4 separate regions of the Homo sapiens genome follow, and all the other regions are reported to be linked to region 4. Evidence: microRNA targets listed by miRTarBase, many of them from high-throughput screens and not tested one by one. Region 4 holds a microRNA gene; each other region holds the end of a gene's coding sequence.

Evidence for each region. The annotated mature microRNA hsa-miR-6780b-5p reads UGGGGAAGGCUUGGCAGGGAAGA and lies in region 4 at 3,262-3,284, shown strand. An mRNA with a match to its seed (bases 2 to 7 or 8) in the 3' UTR can be bound and repressed. Matches are read on the target gene's strand: a 7mer-m8 pairs with bases 2 to 8, a 7mer-A1 pairs with bases 2 to 7 and ends in A, and an 8mer does both.
Region 1: miRTarBase lists ZNF689 as a target of hsa-miR-6780b-5p. Seed matches in the 3' UTR shown: 7mer-m8 at 1,817-1,823.
Region 2: the mRNA of BICRA is a reported target of hsa-miR-6780b-5p. Seed matches in the 3' UTR shown: 7mer-m8 at 469-475.
Region 3: miRTarBase lists RTBDN as a target of hsa-miR-6780b-5p. Seed matches in the 3' UTR shown: 7mer-m8 at 1,409-1,415.

Annotation. Positions count from the first base shown.
Region 1 is chr16:30,598,026-30,605,716 of GRCh38, reverse strand. It overlaps ZNF689 (zinc finger protein 689), which reads left to right. Exons shown (of 3, transcript NM_138447.3): 3 at 270-3,159. The coding sequence ends at 1,453. Among named protein-coding and RNA genes, the nearest start is that of ZNF689, 8.5 kb to the left of the region's middle.
Region 2 is chr19:47,701,964-47,709,591 of GRCh38, forward strand. It overlaps BICRA (BRD4 interacting chromatin remodeling complex associated protein), which reads left to right. Exons shown (of 15, transcript NM_001394372.1): 15 at 1-1,314. The coding sequence ends at 452. Among named protein-coding and RNA genes, the nearest start is that of EHD2, 7.6 kb to the right of the region's middle.
Region 3 is chr19:12,819,391-12,827,081 of GRCh38, reverse strand. RTBDN (retbindin) reads left to right here. Exons shown (of 6, transcript NM_001270441.2): 5 at 211-307; 6 at 1,149-1,600. The coding sequence ends at 1,376. RTBDN-AS1 (RTBDN antisense RNA 1) reads right to left here and starts at 1,349. Exons shown (of 3, transcript NR_187779.1): 1 at 1,170-1,349; 2 at 190-297. RefSeq lists an enhancer at 806-1,582 and a cis regulatory region at 1,151-1,951.
Region 4 is chr6:43,431,286-43,438,976 of GRCh38, forward strand. It overlaps MIR6780B (microRNA 6780b), which reads left to right and starts at 3,257; the gene lies at 3,257-3,335. It overlaps ABCC10 (ATP binding cassette subfamily C member 10), which reads left to right. Exons shown (of 22, transcript NM_001198934.2): 3 at 857-2,075; 4 at 3,336-3,563; 5 at 4,466-4,622; 6 at 4,853-4,962; 7 at 6,649-6,728; 8 at 7,339-7,510.

The DNA of each region.
Region 1 (7,691 bases), not on the chromosome of region 4:
GTGCTTACGATTACAAGCGTGATCCACTGTGCCCGGCCTCAATTTTTAAAGTTAGTTTAATCTCCGAGAAATCTTCCTAGACTTCTCCAAGCTGGGTTAGAAGCTCCTGTAATGCACACCGTATTTGCATGACAGTATGTCACACTTAGCTGTCTGTGGCACTAGGAATTGAGACCAGGGGGTGAGTCTATTGGTCTTGTAACCTATAATGTAATTGACAAGAGCAGGAGCCCAGTATTTGTTAAATTAATGCTTCTGTATTTCTATAGAAAGCAGAACCAGAAAGAAGAATGGGGAGAAGGAAGTATTCCCGCCTAAGGAGGCACCCCGAAAGGGGAAGCGAGGCCGGAGGCCCAGCAAACCCCGACTGATTCCTAGGCAGACGTCCGGGGGCCCCATCTGCCCTGACTGCGGCTGTACCTTCCCTGATCATCAGGCCCTGGAGAGCCACAAGTGCGCCCAGAATCTAAAAAAGCCTTACCCTTGCCCAGACTGTGGGCGCCGCTTTTCCTATCCATCCCTGCTGGTCAGTCACCGGCGGGCACACTCCGGCGAGTGCCCCTATGTTTGTGACCAGTGTGGCAAACGTTTCTCCCAGCGCAAGAACCTCTCCCAGCACCAGGTCATCCATACAGGGGAGAAGCCCTATCACTGCCCTGACTGTGGTCGCTGCTTCCGGAGGAGCCGGTCCTTGGCCAATCACCGGACCACACACACAGGTGAAAAACCCCACCAGTGCCCTAGCTGTGGACGTCGCTTCGCCTACCCCTCCCTGCTAGCCATCCACCAGCGTACACACACGGGAGAGAAGCCCTACACTTGCCTCGAGTGCAACCGCCGCTTCCGCCAGCGCACGGCCCTCGTCATCCACCAGCGCATCCACACGGGCGAGAAGCCCTACCCGTGCCCGGACTGCGAGCGGCGCTTCTCCTCCTCCTCTCGCCTGGTCAGTCACCGGCGTGTGCACTCTGGGGAGCGTCCCTATGCCTGCGAGCACTGTGAGGCCCGCTTCTCCCAGCGCAGCACGCTGCTCCAGCACCAGCTCTTGCACACCGGAGAGAAGCCCTACCCCTGCCCAGACTGTGGGCGTGCCTTCCGGCGGAGCGGCTCCCTGGCCATCCATCGCAGCACGCACACAGAGGAGAAGCTGCACGCCTGCGACGACTGTGGTCGCCGCTTTGCCTACCCCTCACTGCTGGCCAGCCACCGGCGCGTGCACTCGGGCGAGCGGCCCTATGCCTGCGACCTTTGCTCCAAGCGTTTTGCTCAGTGGAGCCACCTGGCCCAGCACCAGCTGCTGCACACGGGGGAGAAGCCTTTCCCCTGCCTCGAGTGTGGCCGGTGCTTCCGCCAGAGGTGGTCTCTGGCTGTCCACAAGTGTAGCCCCAAGGCCCCAAACTGTAGCCCTAGATCTGCTATCGGGGGCTCCAGTCAGAGGGGCAACGCCCATTAGAAGGGGAAGGACTGCCTACGTTCATTTCATTTTATGGAGGGTCCCAGAAAAGGGAAGGAGGAGCCCCAGGTCATACAGGGCAGAGTCAGAACTAAACCCGGGTCTCCTGCTGCACAGAGCTGAACTTTGTATCTTGCAATGCGCTGGCTGCCTCCCTGTGCGTGTCTGGAACAGTCCCATTAGGAGAGGTGACGTCATTTGCTTAAAGTTTTCCAAGCTACCCTATCCTAAAATAGTTTGTGTGGATATCAGGGCTAAAAGTTCTCCCCATCTATTTTAGGGGCTGTCTGCTTTTCTAGTCTGTCCACACAGGGATTACCTGTCATCTTGCATGCAATCAGGAGAATCTCATAGGGGCAGGACCTTCCCCTACTCTGCCTCTTCCTCCATACTAGGTTGGAAAAATCTGGTTTAGCCCACTTTTTGCAACACTCCTGCCAAGTGGTCTTCTACCCATTGCTTGAAAATCTCTCTTGACAGGGAGCTCACTACCTCACAAGGCAGGTCATTTCATTGTGGGATCTATAGAAGGTTAAGTACCACATTCTCCTCTAAACCTTGCCTACGACATGTTTAATACTTCATCTACATAGCAGCCCTTCAGATAATCACAACCACTTTGCCCCCAAGTTTTCAGGTTAAGTAGCATGAATTTGGTCATTCCTTAAAGACAGGGTTTCAATTTCCACACATGATCTCTGCAAACAGGCACTGGGTTTTCAGTGTCCTTTTTGAAGGGTCATATAAAAATAAGGTAACACCACAGTGCCACTACACCTTCTGGGGCTGGACTTGTTTCAGCAGCTTTGGTTGCACTGAATTTGGGGGAGCTGCATGGTACCAGGGGTTTATTGGGTTGCAGATATATAAATGCCCTAAACTTAAAAAAAAAAAAAAAAGCTATAAAACTAAGTCTTCATCTTGTATTTGGAAAATTGGTTCAAGCTGGGTATGAGACATAAGTGTAGTCAGCTCTGGGAGAAGGTTGCTCTTAAGGAGAAGCAGGGACCTGTGGTTTAGCAGCAGGAAGTGCAAATGGGACTGGCTTGTGCTCTACCTGGCAGACCTGGATTGGCTTCAGGCAGCCAGTGCCTGGAAAAGCCTGGAGAATTGGGCCGTACTTGACCCTGATTCTCATCAGGCACAGATGAATCACAGGCACCTAAGAATCGGCACAGAACTTCCATGAGGCCTCAGTCAGCATTTTTTCACAAAATGAGCTGAGGCCATTCAAGGAGGCTAGAAAGAGGGAACTGAATCCAGAGAGGAAGAGTCTATAGTCATCAAGTTGTATCCATGCCAGCCTCCCTCCACAGAGGTGGCAGCAGCGTGGCTCAATCTGATCCACCTCCATGGCACCCACTGGGTAGGTGCTTCATAAAGCTTTACCGAGTTAAATGTGAACAAGGCCTACCACTTTGCCTTGGGCAGCTGCACCAAATTAGAATTTCCAGATGTGACTCATCTCATATTCCAACAGCTGGAGTGGGTCATCCTTTACCCCTGTGGCTCCTTCCTACAGCTCTCCTGATCTCAGCACAAGCAGGGGAGCAGCTGGGGGAACACAGCTTTATGTAATTACCTCTGTTCAATATTTAGCAAGTTGCATTGTAACATTGTAACTGTTTGTTTCTCCTTGGATGATGAGCTACCCCCAAGAAGGGGTCATATCAGATTGGGTCTCATTAAAATGTCTGATGAATGAATTCTGTTCCTTGTGGAATTACTTTTTACAAAATATCAATCTGGTTCCTTGACTCTGTAGCAATCTTTGCTATTCTGATGGGAGAGCCAGACTTTCAGACCAGGAGACCTGTCCTGCCCAGCAGAGCCCTATTACCAGGTCTGCCCAGCCCCCTGGTAGAGCTGGCTCTTTCCCCTTCCCTTTGCCACCAGAACGCAAGGATTTCCTCAGCTAGGAATTGTATAACTTTCTTTGGGACTGGATTGTAATTCATAAAACTTGGTAGCCACTGATGGCTAAATTCCATTATGTGGTCTGTGGAGAGCAGAAATGGGAGATAACCTCCTATGTTCCCTGAAGCACTTCAATCCACCCGAGCTGGGATCCTGGTTCCTTATTCAGTGAGAGATCCTAGCATCCTTCCAATAACTTCCCCTTTCCGCTTAAGGTGGTTTGAGTTTCTGTTATTTGCAATCAAAAGAATGAACTAATACACAGCCTCAGTCTGGGTTAATCTCCCATCTGCCTCCATGCCTAGATATGAGCTGTGAGGAAAAACACTGCATTGCTGCTGAGAGGGGCCACGATACCTTTCCTGACCTTCAACCTCAGTAGAACCTTCAATATTATGTCTTCTGGGCTGGGTGCAGTGGCTCATGCCTGTAATCTCAGCACTTTGAGAGGCCAAGGCGGGAGGATTGTTTGACCTGGGAGTTTGAGACCAGCCCGGGCAATATAGCAAGACTTAAAAAGCAACAACAGTAATAAGACAATATTATGTCTTCCATATATATATATATATATAGAATTAAAGTTAGATATAAACTAATAGTTTATATACAAATGTATAAATATAAATATAAATAAATAAGTACATAAATACTCTGGTAGTCCAGAGCAGGACCACCCTATAGGCAGTGTGCCCAGAGAAGCATTCCATATATATATATATATTTTTTTTTTTTTTTTGAGATGGAGTCTTGCTTTGTCGCCCAGGCTGGAATGCAGTGGCGTGATCTCAGCTCACTGCAACCTCCTCCTCCTGGGTTCAAGTGATTCTCCTGCCTCAGCCTCCCTGGTAGCTGGGACTACAGGTGCCTGCCACCACACCCGGCTGATCTTTGGTATTTTTAGTTGAGACAGGATTTCACCATGTTAGCCAGGATGGTCTCGATCTCCTGACTTCATGATCCACCTGCCTCAGCCTCCCAAAGTGCTGGGAATTCAGGTGTGAGCCACTGCTCCCTGCCCATTCCATATATTTTTAACCAGTAAATACCTCCGCTTTCACTAGGAAAATACAAGGGGTCAAATAGGAGCTTCTTTAACATTCTGCTCCCTGCCATTACTCCAAATTGACCAGTGTGCCCACTCATATTTACTTCTGATCCATCTCAGCAAGTCCTGGATATACAATGTTCAGCAACACAGCTGGGCCTGGGTTTCATCCCCTTCTGCCCCTCAGGGACTTTGCTCTATTATTCCTACTTTCTCGTCTCCTAGTTTTATGGTTTCAGATTCCCTTTCTTGTCCCAAAGACACTCCAGCCTATAAGCATGCTAAGATCTGCCTTTAAAACAATAAAAAAGAACTTTTCTCTTGATCCCTATTATTTTCAGCTAAATGCCTTGAAGCAGTAGCCTACATTCACTGAATCCACTTTTTTCTTTTCTTTCTTTTTTTGAGCTGGAGCCTCACTCTGTCACCCAGGCTGGAGTGCAGTGGCACGATCTCTGCTCACTGCAGCCTCCACCTCCTCCCAGGTTCAAGTGATTCTGTGCCTCAGCCTCCTGAGTAGCTGAGACTGCAGGTGTATGCTATCACACCCAGCTAATTTTTGTATTTTTAGTAGAGACGGGGTTTCACCATGTTGGCCAGGCTGTTCTCAAACTCCTGACCTCAAGTGATCTGCCTGCCTCAGCTTCCCAAACTGCTGGGATTACAGGTGTGAGCCACTGCACCTGGCCTGAATCCACTTCTGTTTATTCTTTGGCCTACTGCAATATTAATAGCCACTTGACTGAGCTTTTATGATGTTCCATGTACTGTGTTAGGCACTTTATATACATTCCAATCCAATGTTCACAAGAACTCTATAAAGTAGGTGTTAACAGACACTCCTCCATGAGTCTCCCTGCTGTGACTCCAAATTGACCAGCGTGCCCACTCATGTTGACTTCCGATCCATCTCGGCAAGTCCTGCCTTCACATCTTGTTGAGTTGGCAAAAATTGCAAGTCCCTGCCTTCAACAGATTCTCAGACTTGAGCCTATTCACAGATCTAGAGTCTCCCCTTCTCTAGATCTGGGGAGGCTGGGTTCCCTTGATGAAGGACTTGATGTCAGTTCTACACTGACAAAAACATGCTGTAGAGCTTCTAGCCTTTTCCAAGTGTACCTGCAGCCATTTAGCAAGCACATTAGATTGGAATGTATATAAAGTGCTTAACTCAGTACATGGCACATCATGAAAGCTCAGTCAAGTGTCTATTAATACTGCAGTGGGCCAAAGAATAAACAAGTGGGTTCAGTGAATGTAGACTACTGCTACTGTGAGCATCAGAGAAGGGGAAGTAACTAGAGTTTCCAGAGATTTGTTGACATTGGACCTAAACTAATTTTAATTCTAAGAGATACAAAATTTAGTTTACCAGGTACAATGGACTCATGGGATCAGGTGTGTGTAGGAATGGGTTAACTCAGGAGGTGTAGGTTGTTCAAACCCTGCACATTCCAAAGAAAGCTCATCTTTAGAACTGGCATTTGGTCTGCTCCTGGGAAATAACTTCTGAGCCCGTGGAATATTTTATTTGATTAGTGTTTTTGTATGCCAGAGGTCTTGGCATACAGCATGCCATCATGCTGTACCAGTCTGAACAAATAAGTTTATCCTAAGTGTGATTTATAGTGAACATTGTTTTTTGCTCTGGGGTCTGAGTAGCAGAGATCAGTAGTATGGACACTCCAAGCCTATGTGACTAATCCCCAATAAAAACCCCACACATGGCCGGGCGCGGTGGCTCACGTCTGTAATCCCAGCACTTTGGGAGCGCGAGGTGGGTGGATCACCTGTGGTCAGGAGTTTGAGACCAGCCTGGCCAACGTGGTGAAACCCCGTCTCTACTAAAAATACAAAATTAGCCAGGTGGTGGCACACACCTGTAATCCCAGCTACTTGGGAGGCTGAGGCAGGAGAATTGCTTGAACCTGGGAGGTGGAGGTTGCAGTAAGCTGAGATCGCACCATTGCTCTCCAGCCTGGGCAACAAAAGTAAGACTATCTAAACAAACAAACAAACAAACAAAAAACCAAAACAAACAAACAAAAAAACCCTGCACCCTAAAGCTTGGGTGAACTTCTCTGTTTGGGAACAATCAGCACCTGTTGTCAAAAATCATTGCAGGGAGAAAAAAGCACGTCCCTGTGATACCCCACTGGGAGTAGACACCTGAAAGTTTGTGCCCGGTTGCATCCGGATTTTGTCCCATGTACCTTATCCCTTTGATGATTTTAAATCTGTGTCGTTTTGCTTTAATAAACCATAAATGTAAGTATAACCAATAAATAAAAATAAATAAGCAAAGCCCTTGCCACTCATTACCCAGAACAATTCTCAGGAGTGTTGGCAGCAAGCAAACCTTGAGGGAGAGGTAATGTCTGCATCCAGGACAAAGAGCAGCTTCCTTACTGCTTACTATAAAACAGCAGATGGCTGGGCATGGTGGCTCACAACTGTAATCCCAGAACTTTTGGTGGCCAAGGCAGGAGGATTGCTTGAGGCCAGGAGTTTGAGACTACCCTGGCCAACATAGCAAGACCCCATCTTATTTATTTATGTATTTATTTAGAGAAGGAGTCTCACTCTTGTCACCCAGGCTGGAGTGCAGTGGCGTGATCTTGGCTCACTGCAACCTCCACCTCCTGGGTTCAAGCAACTTTCCTGCCTCAGCCTCCCAAGTAGCTGGGATTACACTCACCTGCCACCATGCCCAGCTAATTTTAGTATTTTTGTAGAGACAGGGTTTCACCATGTTGGTCAGGCTGGTCTCGAACTCCTGACCTCAGGTGATCTGCCTGCCTTGGCCTCCCAAAGTGCTGGGATTACAGGCGTGAGCCACCGCTCCCAGCCAAATCCCATCTTTAAAAAGGAAAAAAACAGCAGGAGCTTCCTGTTCCTCCCCTATGATGCAACTCACTGTGTGTCTAGCATCCATCTGGGCACATCCCACATTGCCCCTGCAGGGGGCAGAAGGGAACCAATGCAGGCATGCTCATGCTGCTTGTTGTGCCCTGAACAGTAAGGTCTTTTGTCTCTGTTTTCTGACAGCATCCATGAAACAATAACAGACCCATTTATTAACCTATAAGTAGGGCAGCCTCAAATTCCAGATCTGACTGTAGGTATTGTTTTCCTTGACCAGATGAGGAAACAGAGGCACAGTGACATTAAATAGCTTGTCGACCGGGCACAGGGTGCACGCCTATAATCCCAGCACTTTGGGAGGCCGAGGCGGGTGGATCACCTGAGGTCAGGAGTTCGAGACCGGTCTGACCA
Region 2 (7,628 bases), not on the chromosome of region 4:
GAGGCAGCCCGGCGCCGCTGCCCGCCAAAGTGGACGAGGCCACCAGCGGGCTCATCCGCGAGCTGGCGGCCGTGGAGGACGAGCTGTACCAGCGTATGCTGAAGGGCCCCCCGCCAGAGCCCGCAGCCAGCGCCGCCCAAGGCACCGGGGACCCCGACTGGGAGGCGCCCGGGCTGCCCCCTGCCAAGCGGCGCAAGTCCGAGTCGCCCGACGTGGACCAGGCCAGCTTCTCCAGCGACAGCCCGCAGGATGACACGCTCACCGAGCACCTGCAGAGCGCCATCGACAGCATCCTGAACCTGCAGCAGGCCCCCGGCCGGACGCCCGCGCCCTCGTACCCCCACGCTGCCTCGGCCGGCACCCCCGCATCCCCGCCGCCCCTGCACAGGCCCGAGGCCTACCCACCCTCCAGTCACAACGGTGGCCTCGGCGCCAGGACGTTGACCAGATAACACCGGGCCGCCTCCCCTTCCCCGTCCCCTCCTCCCGAAGACGCCGGGACAGTCGGGTGTCCGCCCTCAGCCTCCTGGGGACTCGAGCCGGGGATCCCCTGACGGTTTTTCTTGCCTAAGTTATTTGAGTCACAAAGGCCTCCTTCCCTGCCGCCTGCTTCAGCTGGGTTGCTGGGGGGTGGGCGTGGATTTAGGGAGGGGGCTGTGATGTAAAACGTCTCCCCTGCCAAAGGAGGGGCAAAGTGCTGTGTCAGTTCCTGTTTCTTCCCATTTCCTGGCACACTCTGCCCCTCTGTCCGGGGGACACGCGCATGTGTTTGCCAGGGATGGGGCCACCGGGTTGATGCCAACGCTCCGGGTGCCTGTCTTGTCTGTGTGGCTTCTCAGATGGTGGAGGGTGCTGGGAGCTGGCAGGGTCCTTCCAGACAGTCTCAGCCTCTCCCCGCCGCCCCCAACAGGCTGTCAAACAAAACCGGAGAGGGGGTGGGGGAGCCAGCCTCCCAGCGTGCTGTGCCCGCAGGCACCCGTGTGACATCCGCACGTCCAGCTCCGTGACCTGTGTGTGTGTGTGTGTGCACAAGTGAGTGAGAGATTTCGAACGCCCACCCCTCGACTTTGAAATCTGAGCAAAACAAGAAACTGGGGTCTTCCTCTCCCCCGAACCTCTCCCCAGCTAGTCTTCCCTCTGTTCTTCCTGCCTCCAGCCGCCCGCGCCAGATTTTGAAATCTCGGAGACAAAACTAGTACTGTAAGATAAATTTTTTTGTACTGTATTTATTGTGTATAACGATTTTTTTAAAGGAGAATTCTGTACATTTAGAACTCTTGTAAATTAAAAACCGATCCTTTTTTTAAAACTGTACTCATGCCCCCTTGGCCCATTGCTTTTGGGTTTGTGAGGGTGGGGGAGTGTTTGGATCTGGGATTGTGAGGCCTTCTTCCGCATGCATCTGTTGAGCACCTGCTGAGTACCAGGCCCCGTTCTAGGCTCAGGGGGTTCAACATGAACAAGGCAGACAAGAGTCCCTGCTAAGCCGGTAAGCTGACTTGTTAGTGGGGAAGGCGGGTGGTAAACAGCTAAGCCAGATCAAGCCAGTTCTTCTTATTTCCGGTAAGGTTCTATAATCTCTGCATACACTCTGAGAATTAGTGAATACTGAGCCATTGCCCCCAGGGAGACAGGGTTAGGTTTCTAAGGGCCTCTGATCACCACAGTTCAGTCAATACATCACCTTAGTTTACATGTGTTGCTGTTTAAAAACACTTCTTTATGTATTTTTGAGACGGGCTCACTCTGTCACCCAGGCTGGAGTGCAGTGGCACGATCGTGGCTCACTGCAGCCTTGATCTCCCAGGCTCAAGTGATCCTCCCACCTCAGCCTCCCGAGTAGCTGGGATTATAGGCGCACCACCACGCTTAGCTATTTTTTTTTTTAATCTTTCTGTAGCAATGGGATCTCACTATGTTGCCCAAGCTGGTCTGGAACTCCACGGCTCGAGTGATCCTCTGGCCTTGGCCTCTCAAAGTGCTGGGAATACAGACGTGAGCCACCACGCCCAGCCCTAAAGATACCTTATTTCATTTATATTGTTGATTCATTCACATTGAAGTCATGCCAACAGCATTATAACTGGAACCTGGAGCAAGCCTATTTCACACATATATTTTATCTTTTCTCCAAAGGCACATCACAGCTTCTTGGTGCTTTAAGGTCACTAGACCGCACTTCAGCTGTACGCTTGGGCCCATTTTAAACAATGAGTCACCAACAAAAAGCACAAAAATGTGAAAAGCGTGGGACTAGATAAACCAAGAAAAGGACGCGTGTTTATGGTACGAGAGCCAAAACGAGGGCAGAATGTCGCCTTATTCAACCTCAGCTGGGAACGAACGTCTGTGTTGGGCAACTTGATATTTTGCTGCCGTGTGTGTGTTGAGAGTCTTGACTTGGGGGTTACAAAGAAGTTTTGATGAGCAGATAAATGCACAAATATGGCATTTGCAAATAGTGAGGGTCCACTGTAAATGTATACAGTGTCAGATGCCCATATAAAGAAGAATCAGGCCAGGCACGGTGGCTCACACCTGTAATCCCAGCACTTTGGGAGGCCAAATCGAGTGGGTCACCTGAGGTCAGGAGTTCGAGACCTGCCTGGCCAACATAGTGAAACCCCATCTCTACTTATAAAAAATATATATATATACAAAAATTAGCTGGCATGGTGGCACACGCCTGTAGTCCCAGCTTCTTCAGAGGCTGAGGCAGGAGAATCGCCTGAACCCAGGAGATGGAGGTTGCAGTGAGACGAGACTGACACTCCAGCCTGGGCAACAGAGTGAGACTCTATCCCCCGACCAACAAAAAAAAAGAAGAAAAAAAATCATGCTAGGTGTATTAGTCCCCTCAAGCTGCTATAACAAAATGCCCCAAATAGGGCAGCTTAAAACAACAGATATTTATTCTCCCACAGCCCTAGAGGCCTGAAGTCTGAAAACAAGGTGGCATCAGGGCCATGCCCACTCCAGAGGTGCTAGGGAAGGATCCTTCCTTGTCTCTGCCAGTTTCTGGTGGCCCCAGGTTCTCCTTGGCTTGTGGCTGAATCAGTCCAATCTCTGGCTGACTTCCCACTGTATCTCTTCTCTTCTAAGGGCATCAGTCATATTGGAGTTTTGCCCATCCTACCAGTATGCCCTTGTCATAACTTAATCATATCTGCAAAGATCCTGATTCCCTTTTTTTTTTCTTCTAGCTTTCTTTTTCTTTTTCTTTTTTTGAGACAGATGTCTTGCTCTGTCGCCCAGGCTGGAGTGCAGTGGCACGATCTCAGCTCACTGCAATCTCTGCCTCCAGGGTTTAAGTGATTCTCCTGCCTCAGCCTCCCGAGTAACTGGGACTACAAGCATGTGCCACCACGCCCAGCTGATTTTTTGTATTTTTAGTAGAGACGGAGTTTCACTGTGTTAGCCAGGATGGTCTCAATCTCCTGATGGCATGATCCACCGGCCTCAGCCTCCCAAAGTGCTGGTATTACAGGCGTGAACCACCGCGCCCAGCCCTTCTAGCTTTCTTCAGATCACAGACCCTGATTCCAAATAAAATTACATTCACAGGCACTAGGGTTAGGACATCAGCCTATATTTTGAGAGGACAGAACAACTCAATCCGTAATGCAGGGTAAGGAGGTGGGTGTCACAAGTGAGTGACAATTATCTGGGCTGGTGGTGTGGGGGTAAAAGAATTTACCAAGACAGTGGTAGGTTAAAAAAAAAAAAAAAAAAGCAGATTTATGGGCTCACGCCTGTAATCCCAACTCTTTGGGAGGTGGGCGGATCACTTGAGGTCAGGAGTTCAAGACCAGCCTGACTAACAGTGAAACCCCATCTCTACTAAAAATACAAAAATTGGCTAGGTGCAGTGGCTCACGCCTGTAATCCCAGCACTTCGGGAGGCTGAGGTGGGTAAATGACCTGAGGTCAGGAGCTTGAGACCAGCCTGGCCAACTTGGCAAAACCCTGCCTCTACTAAAAAATACAAAAATTAGCCAGGTGTGGCGGCAGGCACCTGTAATCCCAGCTACTCAGGAGGCTGAGGCAAGAGAATCACTTGAACCCAGGAGGCAGAGGTTGCAGTGAGTTGAGATCGCGTCATTGCACTCCAGCCTGGGTAACAAGAGTGAAACTCCATCGAAAAAAGGTAATAAATAAATAAAAATACAAAATTAGCAGGGCGTGGTGATGCACACCTGTAGTCTCAGCTACTTGGGAACTGGGAGGATCACTTCAGCCCAGGAGGCAGAGGTTACAGTGAGCCAAGACTGCACCACTGCACTCCAGCCTGGGCAACAGAGTGAGACTCCATCAAAAAAAAAAAAAAGGCAGATTTATGAAATAAAGTAGGAAAATATATTGCAAAGTTGCAATGGGCAACACAGCCAGGGAGAAGCTGACTGCAAGGAAACAAAGGCTTGCTGGGGGTTGTATAGGATGGAGTTGGTTTTTTCATTTGCTTTTTAGATAGAGTCTCGCTCTGTCACCCAGGCTGGAGTGCAGTGGCATGATTTCAGCTCACTGCAACCTCCGCATCTCGGGTTCAAGCAATTCTCCTGCCTCAGCCTCCTGAGTAGCTGGGATTACAGGCACCCATCACCATGCCCAGCTAATTTTTGTATTTTTAGTCGAGATGGGGTTTCACCATGTTGGCCAGGCTGGTCTCGAACTCCTGACCTCAAGTGATCCGTCTGCCTCTGCCTCCCAAAGTGCTGGGATTACAGGCGTGAGCCACCATGCCCGGCATATAGGAGAGTTCATGTTGTGTGCTGAAGAGGGCTTTGTGCAGTACTGATAATGCCAGGGTTACAGTGAGCTCACTTGCAGGTGTCTGGTGATACTTGGGCGCAGGAAGATTGAGTTATTTGTATAGGAGGGCTATGTCCTGGACAGTAAAGAAAGGCAGACCTGTAACTTAGCTGCTTTATCTTTTTGCTTTCCTGCATTCTCAGCAGCCTGACTCTCCCTAATTAGGACTCCGCAAGTGGGCAAGACAGCTGTCAGGCCCTAGTATGCCTTTGTGTGAACTAGAAAAGGGCACCCCTCTCTCCTGGGCCCAGAATTTGAAGAGCAGAGCATGAGCTGGGCTCCAGTCCCCTCTCACCCATTCAGTGAGTGCCTTGTGCAGTGAACAACCTGCCCAACTGCACATCAGGGCCCTCGGGATCAGGTGGGAAGGGAAAGATTCTTTGAGGAGGTGATATTTGAGCAGAGACATGCAGGAAAAGAGGGAGGAAGCCACAGGAGAGCTCTCAGGGAAGAGCATCCAAGGCAGAGGGAACCGCCAGTGCAAAGGCCCTGTGGCAGGAGCCTGCCTGGAGTGTCGAGGAACAGCGAAAAAGCCAATGCGGCTGCAGCCCATAAGTGATGGGGAGAGGTCTGGAGGTGAGGTCCGAGGGGGAACAAAGGGCACCTCATCGTGCGGGACCGTGTCCTCCATGGGGATGATTTCGCTGTTACACTGAGACGGGAGCTTCAGGAGGGCCCTGAGCGAACTTAGGTTCCCCAGCACCCTCTGGTGGCTGTTTGCGGGAATAGACGAGGGGTAAGGGTGGAAACCAAGCGCAGCGAGGAGGCAACTGCTGTGAGTCCAGGTGGGTGGTTGTGGCGGCTGGACCGGGGTGATGCACCCTGTTTCTCTGCAGGCCCCTGGAAGTGTTTTGTTTGTTTATTTTTTGGTTGTTTTTAGGACACAGGGTCTCGGCCCAGCACAGTGGCTTGCTCCTGTAATGCCAGCACTTTGGGAGGCAGAGGCAGGTGGATCACCTAAGGTCAGAAGTTCGAGACTAGCCTGGCCAAAATGTCGAAATCCGGTCTTTACAAAAAAAAAAAAAAAATTAGCTGGGTGTGGTGGTGTGCGTCTGTGATCCCAGCTACTGGGGAGGCTGAGATGAGAGGATTGCTTGAGCCCAGGAGATGGAGGTTGCAGTGAGCTGAGATTGCACCACTGCTTGCACTTCAGCCTGGGCGATACAGCCAGACCTTGTCTTAGAGAGAGAGAGAGGCAGACAGACAGACAGAGAGAGAGAAGGTCTCACTGGGTCACCCAGGCTGGAGTGCAGTGGTGCAATCACAGCTCACTAAAGCCTCGAACTCCTGGGCTCAAAGGATCCTCCTGGCACAGCCTTCTGAGTAGGTGCATACCACCTCACTTGGCTAATTTTTATTGTTTTATTTTTATTTTTTGTAGAGACAGGGGTCTCACTGGCCTATAGCAGTCCTCCCGCATCAGCCTCCCAAAGTGGTGGGATTACAGGCATGAGCCATGGCAATGGGCCCCCTGGGGTTGTATGTGGGTGGGAAATTGATATCTGGGGTCTCAGAGGGATGGACCATCCCCTTTCCTAGCTCTAGAACTACTCCCTCCACGTGTGAAATAAAGCACTATAGGAAAACAGCTGTTTCTTAAAAAAAAAAAAAATTTTGGCTGGGCGGGGTGGCTCATGCCTGTAATCCCAGCACTTTGGGAGGCCGAGGCAGGCGGATCATGAGGTCAGGAGATCGAGACCATCCTAGCTAACACAGTGAAACCCCGTCTCTACTAAAAATACAAAAAAATTAGCCGGGCGTGGTGACTGGTGCCTGTAGTCCCAGCTACTCAGGAGGCTGAGGCAGGAGAATGGTGTGAACCCGGGAGGCGGAGCTTGCAGTGAGCTGAGATCCCACCACTGCACTCCAGCCTAGGTGACAGAGTGAGACTCCGTCTCAAAAAATAGATAAATAATAAATAAATAGATAATTTTTTTTGAGATGGAGTCTCACTCTGTCGCCCAGGCTGGAGTGCAGTGGCACAATCTTGGCTCACTGCAACATCCGCCTCCTGAGTTCAAGCCATTCTCCTGCCTCAGCCTCCCAAGTAGCTGGAATTACAGGCATGCGCCACCACGCCTGGCTAATTTTTTTGTACTTTTGGTAGAGACAGGGTTTCACCATATTGCCCAGGCTGGTCTTAAACTCCTGGGCTCAAGCGATCCACCCTCCTCGGCCTCCCAAAGTGCTGGGATTACAAGTGTGAGCCACTTCGCCCAGCCTAAATGGCTGTTTCTTAACATCCTTGGATCACAAAACTCTCGGAGAGACTCTCCTGAAAGACCCCTCCTGATTACTCACAAGGACTCGTCCACAATTTCCACGGGCTCCGGGACTCAGTTCTGCAAGGCTGACTGCCTGCAGGCGAGCGGAAGAACAGAACAGCAGTGACCAACCTTTACTAAACAGGGAACCGCATGGGTTAGCATATCTGGTCCTCACAGCAGCCCCAGCGTGGGAACTAATAGGCCCAGCTTGCAGGTGAGGAAACTGAGGCCCCAAAGATGTAGTACATGGCAGACTGGGCTGTGAGCCAACCTGCCTCAATGCATTCATTAGAGAGAGCTGGCTGTGGGGCCAGTGAGCGATGAGTGTATACAATCGCTGAAAATATCCACAACTGGGCTGGGTGCGGTGGCTCATGCCTGTAATCCTAGCACTTTGGGAGGCCAAGGCGGGTGAATTGCCTGAGCTCAGGAGTTCAAGACCAGCCTGGGCAACATGGTGAAACCCCGTCTCTACTAAAAAATACAAAAAATTAGCCAGGCTTGTTGGTAGGCACCTGTGGTCCCAGCTACTGGGGAGGCTGAGGCATGAGA
Region 3 (7,691 bases), not on the chromosome of region 4:
TGTGACGTGGCCCAGAGTATGGAAAGATCTGATAGAATATGGGGCAGGGTGAAATCTGGAGAGATGGGGTTAGTTAGCAGGGGAGTGGTTCTAAAAGGCGGGGCCTGGATCCGAGGTGGGGGCATATAGTGAACACAGTCTAGAAGAGCCAGAATCGCGCTGGAATGTAACTACAAAGGCTTTACCCACCTCTCCACTCGCCATCTCCAGGTTCGCCAACTGCGAAGATGATATCACCTGCGGCCCGACTTGGCTCCCACTCTCAGAAAAAAGGGGCTGTGAGCCCAGCTGCCTTACCTATGGACAGGTGAGCGTGGGGCAGAAGGTGAAGGGAAGAGACTGAGATCCTCCCCACCAAGTTATTTATTTATTTATTTATTTATTTCTGAGACGGAGTTTCATTCTTGTCACCCAGGCTGGAGTGCAGTGGCGCGATCTCAGCTCGATGCAACCTCCGCCTCCGGGGTTCAAGTGATTCTCCTGCCGCAACCTCCCGAATAGCTGGGATTTCAGGCGCATGCCACCATGCCCAGCTAATTTTTGTATTTTTAGTAGAGTCAGCGTTTCACCATGTTGGCCAGGCTGGTTTCGAACTCCTGACCTCAGGTGATCCGCCCACCTCGGCCTCCCAAAGTGTTGGGATTACAGGTGTGAGCCACCGCCCCCGGCCCCCACCAAGTTCTTTCTTACCGTGTCTAGACCCCAGAGACCGGATTGGTACTCCCCAGGTCCCTGCTCCCACCCTTCCCTAGCCCAACCTCCTACTGGGTTGTGCCCTTTGACCCCAAAAGCTCTCGAAGTCCAGATTTGCCCTTCCCAAGAAACCATTCCTGCTCTGGGTCCATCCACATTTTACCCTGGAGGACCCAGAAGCCCAGTCACTCTCTACAAAACCCCAGCCTTGATACAGACCTCTCTGCGCGCCCCCCAACTGCCCCAACCCTGATTCATCCCGCTAGGGCCCAGTAAGAACATTCACCCTCCCCAAGGACCTGCCCCCACTCACGTTCCGCACATAGACTCCCAGGCCGCACGCTCCGGCTCTGACCCCAATCCCTAAGGAATTTACACATTTTTCCCTTCCCGAGGCCACGCCCCCCACGTCTCTGGACTCCGCCCACTAGGGCCTTAACTCCACTTTTTCCTAGACCTTCGCAGACGGGACGGACCTTTGTCGCTCGGCTCTGGGCCACGCCCTACCGGTGGCTGCTCCTGGAGCCCGTCACTGCTTCAACATCTCCATCTCCGCGGTACCTCGTCCCAGACCAGGACGACGGGGCCGGGAAGCTCCCTCCCGGCGTTCCCGCAGCCCTCGCACCTCCATCCTGGACGCTGCGGGCAGCGGGAGTGGCAGTGGAAGCGGCAGCGGCCCCTAGCGGACGCGTGGCCCTGAGTTGGGGGAGCGACCCTTCCCCCAGCCCCGCCCCTCAGGACACCCAGAACCCCACCCCTCGTCCTCTCGGCCTTCTGTAATAGTTTTGAGATGTCTGTCCCTCCTCCCTGGAGCTCCAGAGACCCACCCCTCTCCAGGTTATCCCAGAAATGACCCAACTCTCTCACTTTTCCCTCTCCCCTTTGAATAAAGTCGCCAGCTAGAGCACGTGACGAGTGTGGCTGCTTCTTGGGGAAATAAGTCGGAAGGAGAATTGCCAGAAAGTAACGGATGTCTCACGTCTAATCCTCAGACCCTAGAAGTAGTGACTGACTCATACTAGAGTGTAAATGATAGATAGCCTGTGCCCTAGAGCAGTCAACATAACTGGGAATACCCAGTTGTTGGAAATGGAGAGGGGGTCAGAACAGGGGCTGACAAGGGCAGGAGGGGTTCCTTCCCACTGTGTGCCACCAGGGCTGCCAAGAAGCTGCCTAACTTGTATAGGCCTCAAGACACACTTCAAGGCCAGGTGCAGAGGCTCATGCCTGTAATCCCAGCAATTTGAGAGGCTGAGGTGGTTGGATTGCTTGAGCCCAGGAGTTCAAGACCAGGCTTCGCAATACGGTGAGAACCTGTCTCCACAAAAAAAAAAAGAGAGAGAGAGAAAGGAAGAAAAAAGAAAAAGAAAAAGAATATTTTTAATTGGCCCAGTGTAGTGACCCGTGCCTGTATTCCTACCTGCTCAGCAGGCTGAGGCAGGAGGATCGCTTGAGCTCAGTTCAGGGCTGCAGTGAGCCACGATCACACCACTGTACTCTAGTCTGGGTGACACAGTGAGAGCCTCTCTCTCAAAAAAAATAATAATAATAAGACATGCAGACACAGAATACCAAGCTGGCCCTGGTAGTATGTGCTGTACTCCCAACTACTTGAGAGGCTGAGGTAAGAAGATCACTCGATCCCAGAACATTGAGGCTACAGTAAGCTATAATCCTGCCACTACACTCCAGCCTGGGCAAAAGCCAGATCCCAGCTTTTTATTTATTTATTTATTTTGAGACTGAGTTTCGTTCTTGTTGCCCAGGTTGGAGTGCAATAGCAGGATCTCAGCTCACTGCAACCTCCTCCTCCCGGGTTCCAGTGATTCTCCTGCCTCAGCCTCCCTAGTAGCTGGGATTACAGGCACCTGCCACCAAGCCCAGCTAATTTTTTGTATTTTTAGTAGAGATAGGGTTTCACCATGTTGGCCAGGCTGGTCTCAAACTCTTCACTTCAGGGGATCCACCCACCTTGGCCTCCCAAAGTACTAAGATTACATGTGTGAGCCACCACGCCTGGCGTTTTTTTTGTTTGTTTGTTTGTTTTTTTGAGACAGAGTCTAGCTTTGTCTCCCAGGCTGAATTGTAGTGGTGCAATCTTGGCTTACTGCAACCTCAGCCTCCTGGGTTCAAGTGCTTCTCGTGCCTCAGCCTCCAGAGTAGCTGGGATTGCAGGCACACACCACCACATCTGGATAATTTTTGTATTTTTAGTAGAGATGGGGTTTCACCATGTTGGCGAAACCTCAGGTGATCCACCTGCCTCGGCCTCCCAAAGTGCTGGGATTACAGACACAAGTCACCATTCCTGCCCAAGACCCCATATTATACATGTACAGACTACAGAATTTGGTGGGAATGACCCCGTGTAGCGTCCACCTGTGTTCACAACCCAGCTCTACCACTTACTTATGCTGTAACTTCGGTTTCACACGTTGCCCAGATTGAGCCTCAGTTTCTTCATCTTTAAAATGGGAATGTGGGCCAGGCACGGTGTCTCATGCCTGTAATCCCAGCACTTTGGGAGGCCGAGGCAGGTGGTTCATTCACTTGAGGCCAGGAGTTCGAGACCAGCCTGGCCAACATGGCGAAACTCCGTCTCTACCAAAAGTACAAAAATTAGCCAGGCAGCCGGGTGCGATGGCTCATGCCTGTAATCCCAGCACTTTGGGAGGCCAAGGCGGGCAGATCACGAGATCAAGAGTTCAAGACCAGCATGACCAACATGGAGAAACCCCATCTCTACTAAAAAATACAAAAATTAGCCAGGCATGGTGGGGCGCACCTGTAATCCCAGCTACTCAGGAGGCTGAGGCAGAAGAATCGCTTGAACCTGGGAGGTGGAGGTTGCAGTGAGCAGAGAACGTGCCATTGCATTCCAGCCTGGGTGACAGAGCAAGGATCTGTCTCAAAAAAAAAAAAAAAAAAATTAGCCAGCTGTGGTGGCACATGCCTATAATCCCAGTTTCTTGGGAGGCTGCGGTAGGATAATCACTCGAACCCAGGAGGTGGAGGTTGTGGTGACCTGAGACAGTACCACTGCACTCCAGCCTGGGTAACAGGGTGAGACCTTGTCTCAAAAAGAAAAATTACAATAAAATAAATAAAATAAAACGGAAATGCATTCCTTTCACAGGATTGAGAAAGGAGAATTCAGTGAGTTAGTGCAAGTTTTTCTGCTTATCTAACACTGCATACCAAACAATTCCAATATAGTGATGAAAAAAAGGTCACTAGGCTGGGCGTGGTGGCTCATGCCTGTAAGCCCAGCACTTTGGGAGTCCAAGGCGGGCGGATCGCAAGGCCAGGATATCGAGACCATCCTGGCTGACATGGTGAAACCCCGTCTCTACTAAAAATACAAAAAATTAGTCGGGCATTGTGGCAGGCACCCGTAGTCCCAGCTACTTGGGAGGCTGAGGCAGGAGAATGGCATGAACCTGGGAGGCAGAGGTTTTAGTCAGCTGAGATCACACTACTGCACTCCAGCCTGGGCGACAAAGCAAGACTCCATCTCAGAAAAAAAAGTCATTATCGGCTGAGTGCAGTGGCTCATGCCTGTAAGCCCAGCACGTTGGGAGGCCGAGGCGGGCAGATCACCTGAGGTCAGGGGTTCAAGACCAGCCTGGCCAACATGGTGAAACCCTGTCTCTACTAAAAATAAAAAATTAGCTGGGCATGGTGGTGCGTGCCTGTAATCCCAGCTACTCAGGAGGCTGAGGCTGGAGAATCACTTGAACCCATAAGGCAGAGGTTGCAGTGAGCCGAGATCATGCCACTGCGCCCCAACCTGGGTAACAGAGCCAGACTCCGTCTCAAAAAACAAAACAAAAAAAAAGAAACAACAACCAGCACTTTAGGAGGCCGAGGCAGGTGGATCACGAGGTCAGGAGTTCGAGACCAGCCTAACCAACATGGTGAAACTCCATCTATACTAAAAATACAGAAAATTAGCCGGGTGTGGTGGCGCATGCCTGTAATCCCAGCTACTCAGGAGGCTGAGGCAGGATAATTGCTTGAACCCAGGAAGCAGAGGTTTCAGTGAGCCGAGATCACGCCATTACACTCCAGCCTGGGTGACAGAGCGAGACTCCATCTCAAAAAAAAAAAAAAAAGTTACTATCTTTCATGGTTCTGGGGTTTGACTTGGTTCAGCTTGGCAGTTCTTCCTGAAGATCTGTCATATACTTGCAGACACAGTGGCTGGGGCTGGAATCACGTTGAAGGCTTCCTTGCTCACATATCTGGTAGTTGGTGTTGGCTGTTGCCTTGAACTTCTGCTGGGGCTGTTGGCCAGAATATCTGCACATGGCCTCTCTGTGGCTTGGGCTTCCTCTCAACATGGCAGCTACGGTCTAAGGGAAATATCCCAAGAGAGCAAGCCAGGTGGGATCTGTTTCAGTTCTGATGACTTAACCTTGGAACTCACACAGTGTGACATCTCTCACTTTTTATTCACTACAGTGAGTCACTGAAGCCAGCTCATATTCAAGGAGAGGCATCATAGACTCCACCTCCAATGGGGGGGATGTCAAATAAAATGCTTAGAAAGTGTGGCACACAATTATCACTCAATGAATGTAGACCGTCTATTATGATTGCTTCTGGTGGATGATGTTACATACTGGGTTACTGATGTTATAGACTGTGTTATTGTGACAAGGAGGAGGAACAAGCATTCAAGGAAGTAAAGCAAGTCTTTAAAGGATCTCCAGTCAGATAATCAAGCCATGGAGGACATTCCAAGTGAAAGGCCTGGAGATTTCATATTCTGGGAACTCTGAGCTGACCAGGAAGCCTGGGATAGACCATGGGAGATGGGATCTGGTCCTGGAAGACACTGGATGCCAGGCAGAGACACTTGAACCTGAGGATAGAGTGTGATGTACCAGGAGCTGTGGCTCACACCTGTAATTCTAGCACTTTAGGAGGCCGAGGCAGATGAATTCTTTGAGGTCAGGAGTTCCAGACCAGCCTGGGCAACAGGGCAAAACCCCATCTCTACTAAAAATTAAAAAAATTAGCTGGGCATGGTGGCACACACCTGTAGTCCCAGCTACTTGGGAGGCTGAAGGTGGGAGGATTACTTGAGCCAGGAGGTGGAGGTTGCAGTGAGCCATCATCTGCCCTCCAGCTGAGGCAACAGATGGAGACCGTGTCTCAGAAAAAAAAAAAAAAGAGAGAGACAGGAGGGTGTGATGCAAGGTTTGGCAGTTCGGGCTACAGTCTCAGCTACTTGGGAGGCTGAGGTGACTGTATTGCTTGAGGCCAGGAGATTGGGAATAGCATGGGCACCATAGCCAGACCTCATCTCCAAAATAAAAAAAAAAAAAAAAGTTAGGCTGGACAAAATTAGGTAGGACAGCTCACGCCTGAAATCCCAGCACTTTGGAAGGCTGAAGCAGGAGAACTGCTTGAAGCCAGGAGTTCAAAATCAGCCTGGGCAACATAGTAAGACCTCATCTCTACCAAAAAAAACAAAAACCAAAAAAAATTAGCGAGGTGCAATGGTTTGTGCCTGTAGTCCCACATACTCAGGACCTCATTTAGAAAAGGAAACATGTGAAAGCCATAGGTTTTTTGTTTTTGTTTTTTGAGACGGAGTCTCGCTCTTGTCACCCAGGCTGGAGTGCAGTGTGGCACGATCTCGGCTTACTGCAACCTCTGCCTCCCAGGTTCAAGCTATTCTCCTGCCTCAGCCTCCTTACTAGCTGGGATTACAGGTGCCTGCCACTATGCCTGACTAATTTTTGTACTTTTAGTAGAGACGGGGTTTCACCATGTTGGCCAGGCTGGTCTTGAATTCCTGACCTCAGGTGATCCACCTGCCTTGGCCTACCAAAGTGCTGGAATAACAGTCATGAGCCACCGTGCCCAGCCTTGTTTTTGTTTTTTTAAAACAGGGTCTCACTCTGTTGTTCAGGCTCTTAAGTGCAGTGGTGCAATCTCGGCTCACTGCAGCCTCAACCTCCCAGGCTCAAGTGATCCTCCCACCTTACCTCCCCAAGTATCTGGGACTACAGGCGCTCACCACCACGCCCAGCTGATTTTTGTATTTTTTAGTAGAGACAGCGGTTTCACTATGTTGGCCAGGCTGGTCTTTAACTCCTGACCTCGTGATCCGCCACCTTAGCCTCCCAAAGTGCTGGGATTATAGGCATGAGCCACTGTGCCTGGCTGAGACCCTTTTTTTTTTTTTTTTTTTTTGAGATGGAGTCTTGCTCTTTAGCCCAGGCTGGAGTGCAGTGGCGCTATTCTCGGCTCACTGCAAGCTCCGCCTCCCAGGTTCACGCCATTCTCCTGCCTCAGTCTCCCGAGTAGCTGGGACTACAGGTGCCCGCCACCACACTGGCTAATTTTTTGTGTTTTTAGTAGAGATGGGGTTTCACCATGTTAGCCAGGATGGTCTCAATCTCCTGACCTCGTGATCCGCCCACCTTAGCCTCCCAAAGTGCTGGGATTACAGGTGTGAGCCACCCGGCCTTTTTTTTTTTTTTTTTTTTTTTTTGAGACGAAGTCTCACTCTTGTCCCCCAGGCTGGAGTGCAAAGGCGCAATCTCGGCTCACTACAACCTCCACCTCCCGGGTTCAGGCAATTCTCCTGCCTCAACCCCTGGAGTAGCTGGGATTACAGGTGCCTGCCACCAGGCCTGGCTAATTTTTGTATTTTTAGTAGAGATGGGGTTTTACCATGTTGGCCAGGCTGGTCTAGAACTCCTGGCCTCAGGTGATCCACCCGCCTTGGCCTCCCAAAGTGCTGGGATTACAGGCGTGAGCCACCGCACCCAGCCAACTCTGTTTCTTAAAAAAAACCTCAAAAACATGACACTCGGGATCTTCAGCAGGCCAGTGTGGAACCCTGGACTCTTTCCAACTCCCGTGTGAGCTTCACGCTGCTGGGACGGGGACCCAGCACTGAGTTCTCACAAATTCAAAGGCTGTTGTTAGAAGTAACATTTGCAGGCCGGGCGCGGTGGCTCATGCCTGTAATCCCAGCA
Region 4 (7,691 bases):
TAAGGGTACTGTTAGGTGGATCCTTTTGTAAAAATGAATATGTACCCTTTATCAGTTATCTGCATGAAAACTTTGGATTTTCTTTTTTTTCCTGAGACGGAGTCTTCCCCTGTCACCCAGGCTGGAGTGCATTGGCGTGATCTCAGCTCACTGCAACCTCCATCTCCCAGATTCAAGCGATTCTCCTGCCTCAGCCTCCTGAGTAGCTGGGATTGCAGGTGCCTGCCACCATGCCTGGCTAATTTTTGCATTTTTGGTAAAGATGGGGGTTTCACCATGTTGGCCAGGCTGGTCTCGAACTCCTAACCTCAGGCGATCCTCCCGTCTCAGCCTCCCAAAGTGCTAGGATTACAGGCGTGAGCCACGGCGCCCAGCCTGGATTTTTTTTAAAATTTTAGATTCATGAGGCATATGTGCTTGTTTGTTATTATACATGGATATATTATGTGATGCTGAAGTTTGGGCTTCTAATGATCCCATCACCAAAGTAGCAAACGTAGTACCCAGGATTTTTTTTTTCCTAGTTAGTCTTCATGTTAAGTACAATCTTACCTCAAAATTGTTAATGTCTGTGGTTTAAAAAAAAACATGAATCAGAAATGGTGTGGGTAGTTTAGAAAATGAGTTAGGTTCAGGTGGCCGGTTAGCTCAGTTGGTCAGAAAATGAGTTAGGTTCATCTGGGAAGACTTCCTGGGAGAAAAGACCCTGGGTTCTGAGGTAAAGTGGAGTAGGGATAAGATGTGCAAGGCAGGAAGGGAGTTGATTCCTTAGGTAAGTGAATTATTGGAGGTGAGGGGTATGTCTGGCTCCTGAGTCAGCCACGATGTGCCTCCTTGTCTTCCCCCTTGTCCCCAGGAGTCCAGATTACATCCTACCCTGCAGTCCTGGATGGCGCCTCCGACTTGCAGCTTCCTTCCTGCTTTCCGTCTTCCCGCTGCTAGACCTTCTTCCAGTTGCTTTGCCACCAGGGGCAGGCCCAGGACCCATAGGGCTAGAGGTGTTGGCAGGGTGCGTGGCAGCTGTGGCCTGGATCAGCCACAGCCTGGCCCTGTGGGTGTTGGCACATTCCCCTCATGGCCACTCCCGGGGTCCCTTGGCCTTGGCCCTGGTAGCCTTGCTGCCAGCTCCAGCCCTAGTGCTGACCGTGTTGTGGCATTGCCAGCGAGGCACACTTCTGCCCCCACTTCTCCCAGGGCCCATGGCCCGCCTATGCTTGCTCATCCTGCAGCTGGCTGCACTCTTGGCCTATGCACTGGGATGGGCAGCTCCTGGGGGACCACGAGAACCCTGGGCTCAGGAGCCCCTCCTGCCCGAGGATCAAGAACCTGAGGTGGCTGAAGATGGGGAGAGTTGGCTGTCACGCTTTTCCTATGCCTGGCTGGCACCCTTGCTGGCCCGTGGGGCCTGTGGAGAGCTCCGGCAGCCTCAGGACATTTGCCGCCTCCCCCACAGACTGCAGCCAACCTACCTGGCTCGTGTCTTCCAGGCACACTGGCAGGAGGGGGCACGGCTGTGGAGGGCCTTGTATGGGGCCTTTGGACGGTGCTATCTGGCACTTGGACTGCTGAAGCTGGTGGGGACCATGTTGGGATTCTCAGGGCCCCTGTTGCTCTCCCTACTGGTGGGCTTCCTGGAAGAGGGGCAGGAGCCACTAAGCCACGGCCTGCTCTATGCTCTGGGGCTAGCCGGTGGGGCTGTGCTGGGTGCTGTGCTGCAGAATCAGTATGGGTATGAGGTATATAAGGTAACACTTCAGGCACGGGGGGCTGTGCTGAACATCCTGTACTGCAAGGCTTTACAGCTGGGGCCCAGCCGCCCTCCTACTGGGGAGGCCCTGAACCTACTAGGCACTGACTCTGAACGGCTGCTTAACTTTGCTGGGAGCTTCCATGAAGCCTGGGGCCTGCCCCTGCAACTGGCCATCACCCTCTACCTGCTGTACCAGCAGGTAGGCGTGGCCTTCGTGGGTGGTCTCATCTTGGCACTGCTGCTGGTACCCGTCAACAAAGTGATTGCCACCCGCATCATGGCCAGCAACCAGGAAATGCTACAGCACAAGGATGCGCGGGTTAAGGTGAGCGGGTACTTGGGGTCCCTCAGCTATCTGGAGACCCCACCCAGCCCAGGTCCCCAGGTCTTCCCATGCACACTACCTGAGGGAGTGAGAGTGACCTCAAAGTTAAGAGCTGAGACTGGAGAAAGGTAGACCTGGGTTCAAATCCTGGCTCTACACTTACTGGTTCAATCACTTCAGACAAGTCACTTAACCTATTTGGGCTTCCCCTTCCTCATCTGTAAAGTGAGAATAGTAGTAGCTTACCTTGTAGAGTTGTAAGGATCTCATGAGATAATGCTTAGTGTAGTGCCAGTCACAAAGTAAGCTCTGAATACATGTGGCCACCCTGGGAGGTAGGAAGTCATCTGTCTGGCTCCAAACAGGTCTTTAGGGCCAGAGCTGGGACCCAAGTCTCCAACCTCCTTATCTAGGGCACAGACCACCCCATGGCTGCATGTAGAGACCTAGGAGAACCTCAGCTGCCTCTTTGGGTAGGCTGAGGGGAAGGGAATAGGTCACTTTCCTGCCTGGGTCAACTCCAGGTGTTTAGGGTTTGGCTGAATCTGCAGAGCTCTGGGTTCTGCAGTGATTGTGGGTACCTTCACAAAGGGGATGGCAGTCCTGGGGGTTCATACAGCATAGTTGTCGACCCTTAGTGGAACAGCTCAGAGTGCTCCTGGAGGGAAGGGAGGTTGATAGATGGTTATGGCATGAGGCATTTTCCCCTACCTGTGACAGCTACAGACGAGGAGTTTTGGCCCTTGCCCATCTTCCCTGGGCCCATTAGCCTGTTTGACCCTGGGCTGTAGTGTGGCCTCTTATGCCTGTGTACTTCTACAGGAATAGTTTCTGTGCCACTCAAGCCGGGGGCCGGAACTGGGGGGCCAGCCCCCGAAGCCCACATCTTTTGGTTTTGGGAGATAGCCCTTTGTCCCTCATCTAATGGGAGGAGAGCTTTTACTCCACTGTGGTGACCTGGCTCCACCTTCCACCACTCCTCCTAGGAAGGTGGGGAATTCCCACTCCAAGCTGTCCCCAGCTGGAGCAAATGGAGAAGTAAGAGACTGGGAGGGGAAGCAACCCAGGGCTGAAAAGGATTTGAAGGGCAGGATTTCCAGAAAGTACTGAGGTGAGGAAGAAAACCAAGACTAGGGCAGTGCAGAGTATCTGGGAGCTTAGAGTACTGAACATTCTGCCAGCAGCCTGGGGAAGGCTTGGCAGGGAAGACACATGAGCAGTGCCTCCACTTCACGCCTCTCCCTTGTCTCCTTTCCCTAGCTTGTGACAGAGCTGCTGAGTGGCATTCGGGTCATCAAGTTCTGCGGGTGGGAGCAGGCACTGGGAGCCCGAGTAGAGGCCTGCCGGGCTCGAGAGCTGGGGCGACTCCGGGTCATCAAATACCTGGATGCGGCCTGTGTATACCTGTGGGCTGCCCTACCGGTTGTCATCTCCATCGTTATCTTCATCACCTATGTCCTCATGGGGCACCAGCTCACTGCCACCAAGGTGAGGACCAGGAAGGAAGGGGACCAGCATCAAGGAGACTTCAGCGAAGTGAAGACAGAGGCTTGGGCCCTCAGTGCTGGCTGAGAAGGAGGGAGGGATCCCTGACTGCCTCATCTCTCAACCAAGGGAAAACTGAAGAAACCTTTTTGTGGGGGCCTTGGATATATAACCCTCCCCTCTGTGAAGGAGTTCCTTTCTTTCCTCTCCTCTACCTTTCACTCCAGCTTCTATTCAGTTCCAGGCTTGGGGTTAGGTCTCTTCATCCTCGTTCTAATGGCCTTAGGAAAAAAATGTATGATGCAATCCTGGGTCTAGCCAAGGCCAGGTGATGTTGCTACTTGGAAATTCTAAAAAAAAGACTCAAAATGAGCTAGGCCTGCCTAGTTAAAAAGATGCAACCTTGGCCAGGCGTGGTGGCTCACACCTGTAATTCCAGCACTTTGGGAGGCCAAGGCAGGCGGATCACCTGATGTCAGGAGTTCGAGACCAGCCTGACCAACATGGTGAAACCTTGTCTCTACTAAAAATATAAAAATTAACCAGGTGTGGTGATGCATGCCTGTGATCCCAGCTACTCAGGAGGCTAGGGTAGGAGAATCACTTGAACCCTGGAGGTGGAAGTTGCAGTGAGCCGAGATTATGCCACTGCACTCCAGCTTAGGTGACAGAGCAAGACTCGTCAAGAAAAAAAAAAATGCAACCTGAATCCCTTGAGGAACATTGGAATTTCTAGGATTCTTTAAGTGACCATCTCTGCCACATCTGATCCCAGGATTGGCCAGCCAGCCCTTCAGTTCTGTCATTGCCCAGTTCTTCCCTCCGTAGACCTGTCCACAGGGCTTCCCATAGAAACAGGCCCTTAGATAACTCCTGGGGCTTCACCCTGCACCCACCTCACTCAGGTGTTCACGGCCCTGGCACTGGTGCGAATGCTCATTCTTCCTCTCAACAACTTCCCTTGGGTGATCAATGGTCTCCTGGAGGCCAAAGTGTCCTTGGACCGGATCCAGCTTTTCCTCGACCTTCCAAACCACAACCCCCAGGCCTACTACAGCCCAGGTAATGGGAAGCTAGTGGGCAGAACCTGGCACAGGGTGAGGAGGGAAGTGGAGCCACTTGGGTGCTGCGCATAGATGTCACCAAGAGGGCTTAGAGAGAGCGGAATCCAAAACAGACTCATTTAGCTTTGGGCAGGTAGATATGGGGCTGGCAAGTGAATTACATGATTTACCCTCCCCAAACAGATTGTGGTAGATTAGGAGCCCAAATCAAGTGGCTTCTCTGTTCAGATCCCCCTGCAGAGCCATCTACAGTATTGGAGCTGCATGGAGCCTTGTTCTCCTGGGACCCAGTTGGAACCAGCCTGGAGACCTTCATCAGTCATCTCGAAGTGAAAAAGGTTTGTTGGACAGACACCCTGGGAGAGTCCTCAGACTAACGAGAGAGATGGGAACTCATGTCAGAGAAGCAGTGACCGAGCCAATCATAGCTGATGGCTCTGCAGCTCTAATTGCTGCAGGAGGGATAGGCATTTGGTGAGCAGGTTCTAATCATGAGGAGATGACACCTCACATCTGAATCTCAGAATAGTTGCACCTCTCTCTGGTCTTTAGGCAGCTTGTATCCATCCAGTCCAGACCAATGGGTGTGCTTGTCTCTCCATGTCCCTCAGAAGCTGCAGCATTCAGAACAGGCCCTGGGGTTTATGTAGCATCTCCCCCAGATTGGGGATCTGGGGGAGAGGCCCAGCAAGTGCTTCCAAGAAATATTTTGCAAATGGGGATCCTCTGTTTAGGCTGGTGAAAAGCAATCACACCCTGTGACTCATGCTACAGCATACAAAGAACTTAAAATGGGGCATTCCTGGCAATAAGCCAACTCCTGTTCACCTCCTGTTCTGAGTTTTCACTCTCTCCTGACCTTTGTCCAACCCTGTGCCCCACAGCTCAACCCGGCATTCTCTGGTGGTGGCTGAATTGCCTCCACCACATTTGGCTCACGTTTCTGGCTTGGGCTGTATGTTTTGTTTTTCCTCTTAGTTCAGGCAAGACAAGGCTAGATTTGTACAAAGGAATTTTGCTAATGTGTTAGTTGGGGCTTTTTTGGGTATAAGTTACAGAAACACACTAGAGCTAGCTTAAGCAAACAAGAATTTATAATAAGGATGTAGAGATACATTGCAGAATCCAAAGGCAGGAACGCAGCTGGATCTTAGAAACAGCCCAGAACCAGGCCTCAACTCGCAGAGCTCTCTGCTTCTGTGTGCCTCTCTCCCTGTATTTGCCTGGTTCTCTTCTCTCTGTGGACACACCCTCCACTGAGCAGAAGATGTGACTACAGAGAATGCTCGAGTTTACAAGTTACAGCCAACAAGGAGAAGCTGCCTCTGGGACCTGATCCCAAATTCCCATGGAAAGGTCTCAGAAGTGGTGCCCACTTGTAGCTGGGTCAACCCTGGCTGGCAGGGTTGGGGCATCACAGGCAGATAGAGCTTCTGAGAGCCCAGTCCCTTCTAGAGAAGGAACTAGGACTTTTTTTTTTTTATATTTTTTTGAGCAGGGAGATAGCTCCATGAACATATGACCAAAAAAAAAAAAAAAAAAAAAAAAGGTAAACAGAAAAATTTAAGCCACAGAAATAGGGATCTATGCAAAGCTCTGCTTTTTCCCCTGAGATATGGTAACTCTAGCCACAGGTCGACTTAGCCAACCCATCATCCAGGCCCTAAAGCCTGGAATTCTACCCTTCCCTCTCCCGTTCTGGAGTGCCTGTCTCAGAGTTTACCTTGGAAGTTCTTGGGTGGTTTCCTCCCATTCTCTCTGGCATGCTGCTCCCCTTCAGAGGCCCTTCACATAGACAGTGAAACTGATAGCCACTCTGAGTGGAGAAAAAAACACCCTACTTTTCTAGAGCCTGATTTGTTGATCAGCCTGTGAAGCGGAGAATTCTTTCCCTACACACTAAAGAAAGAAGAAAAGAGAAGCCTCAGTGGGAGGACTGGCAGCCCAGAGTGTCAAGAGGGAGACCACTGCCACCTCTGTCCTGTCTCCTACCAATAGCAGATGCTTGTGTGGCTTCCTTGCAGGGTATGCTGGTGGGCATCGTGGGGAAGGTCGGCTGTGGGAAGAGCTCCCTGCTGGCTGCCATCGCTGGAGAGCTCCACAGGTAACCAACCTCCTATGCACCCCTGTCCTTACTTTGTCCTTTAGCAAACACTGAGCCCCTCTTATGTGTTGGACACCTTTTGGGGGTCAGGGGTACTAAGAAGAGCAACGCATGGTCCCTTTATTGGGAGAGTTTTCAATCTGGAAAGAAGGAGGTGGCCAAGAAAGCGAATCATTGTAATCATTACACCAGAGTGTTTTAAATGCTATAATAGTCAGCAAAGGAATGGAAACATCCAGTGTCAGCTATTCTTTCAGAAATGTGGCTGTGCAGAGAAGGGATCCAGAGAGGAGCATAGGTTTGAGGGAGGACCTTGTTTTCAGATGGGAACAAGTACAATGTGGTGGCCATACTCTCCACTGAGCTCCTGAACAGATGTAAGTACAACAGCTGCTTGGCTGTAGCCAAAGAGCTATTTCTTCCCTTCTTCGCCCAGAATGGGCTTCATTAGGACCCCTTGACCTCAGGAGCTGCCATCTCAGTCATGTGACATGAAGGGGGACCCTGTGTAGAAGACAGCAGCCTGGGGAGGCTTCTAGGAGTCAAGGGCTGGGCATGGAGGGACCCAGAGGAGAGCTGGTCCTCATATTGCTCGCCTGGCTCTCTGCAGGCTGCGTGGGCATGTGGCAGTGCGGGGGCTGTCCAAGGGCTTTGGCCTGGCCACCCAGGAACCCTGGATCCAGTTTGCCACCATCCGAGACAACATCCTCTTTGGGAAGACATTTGATGCACAGCTGTACAAGGAGGTGCTAGAAGCCTGCGCCCTCAATGATGACCTCAGTGTGAGTGCCTGGCCTTGAAACCTCTTAGCTGCCTGTTTCTCCAGTGTCCCTGACACCTCAAACCAGGAGCTTTGCTTTTCTGGAAAGGGGTTGCTTCTACTCGGGCATCACTTATCTAGGAATGGCCATCGGACTGTGGTCCTCCCAGAGTGTCCAGCTGCCCCTTCTGATAGGGCCCAGT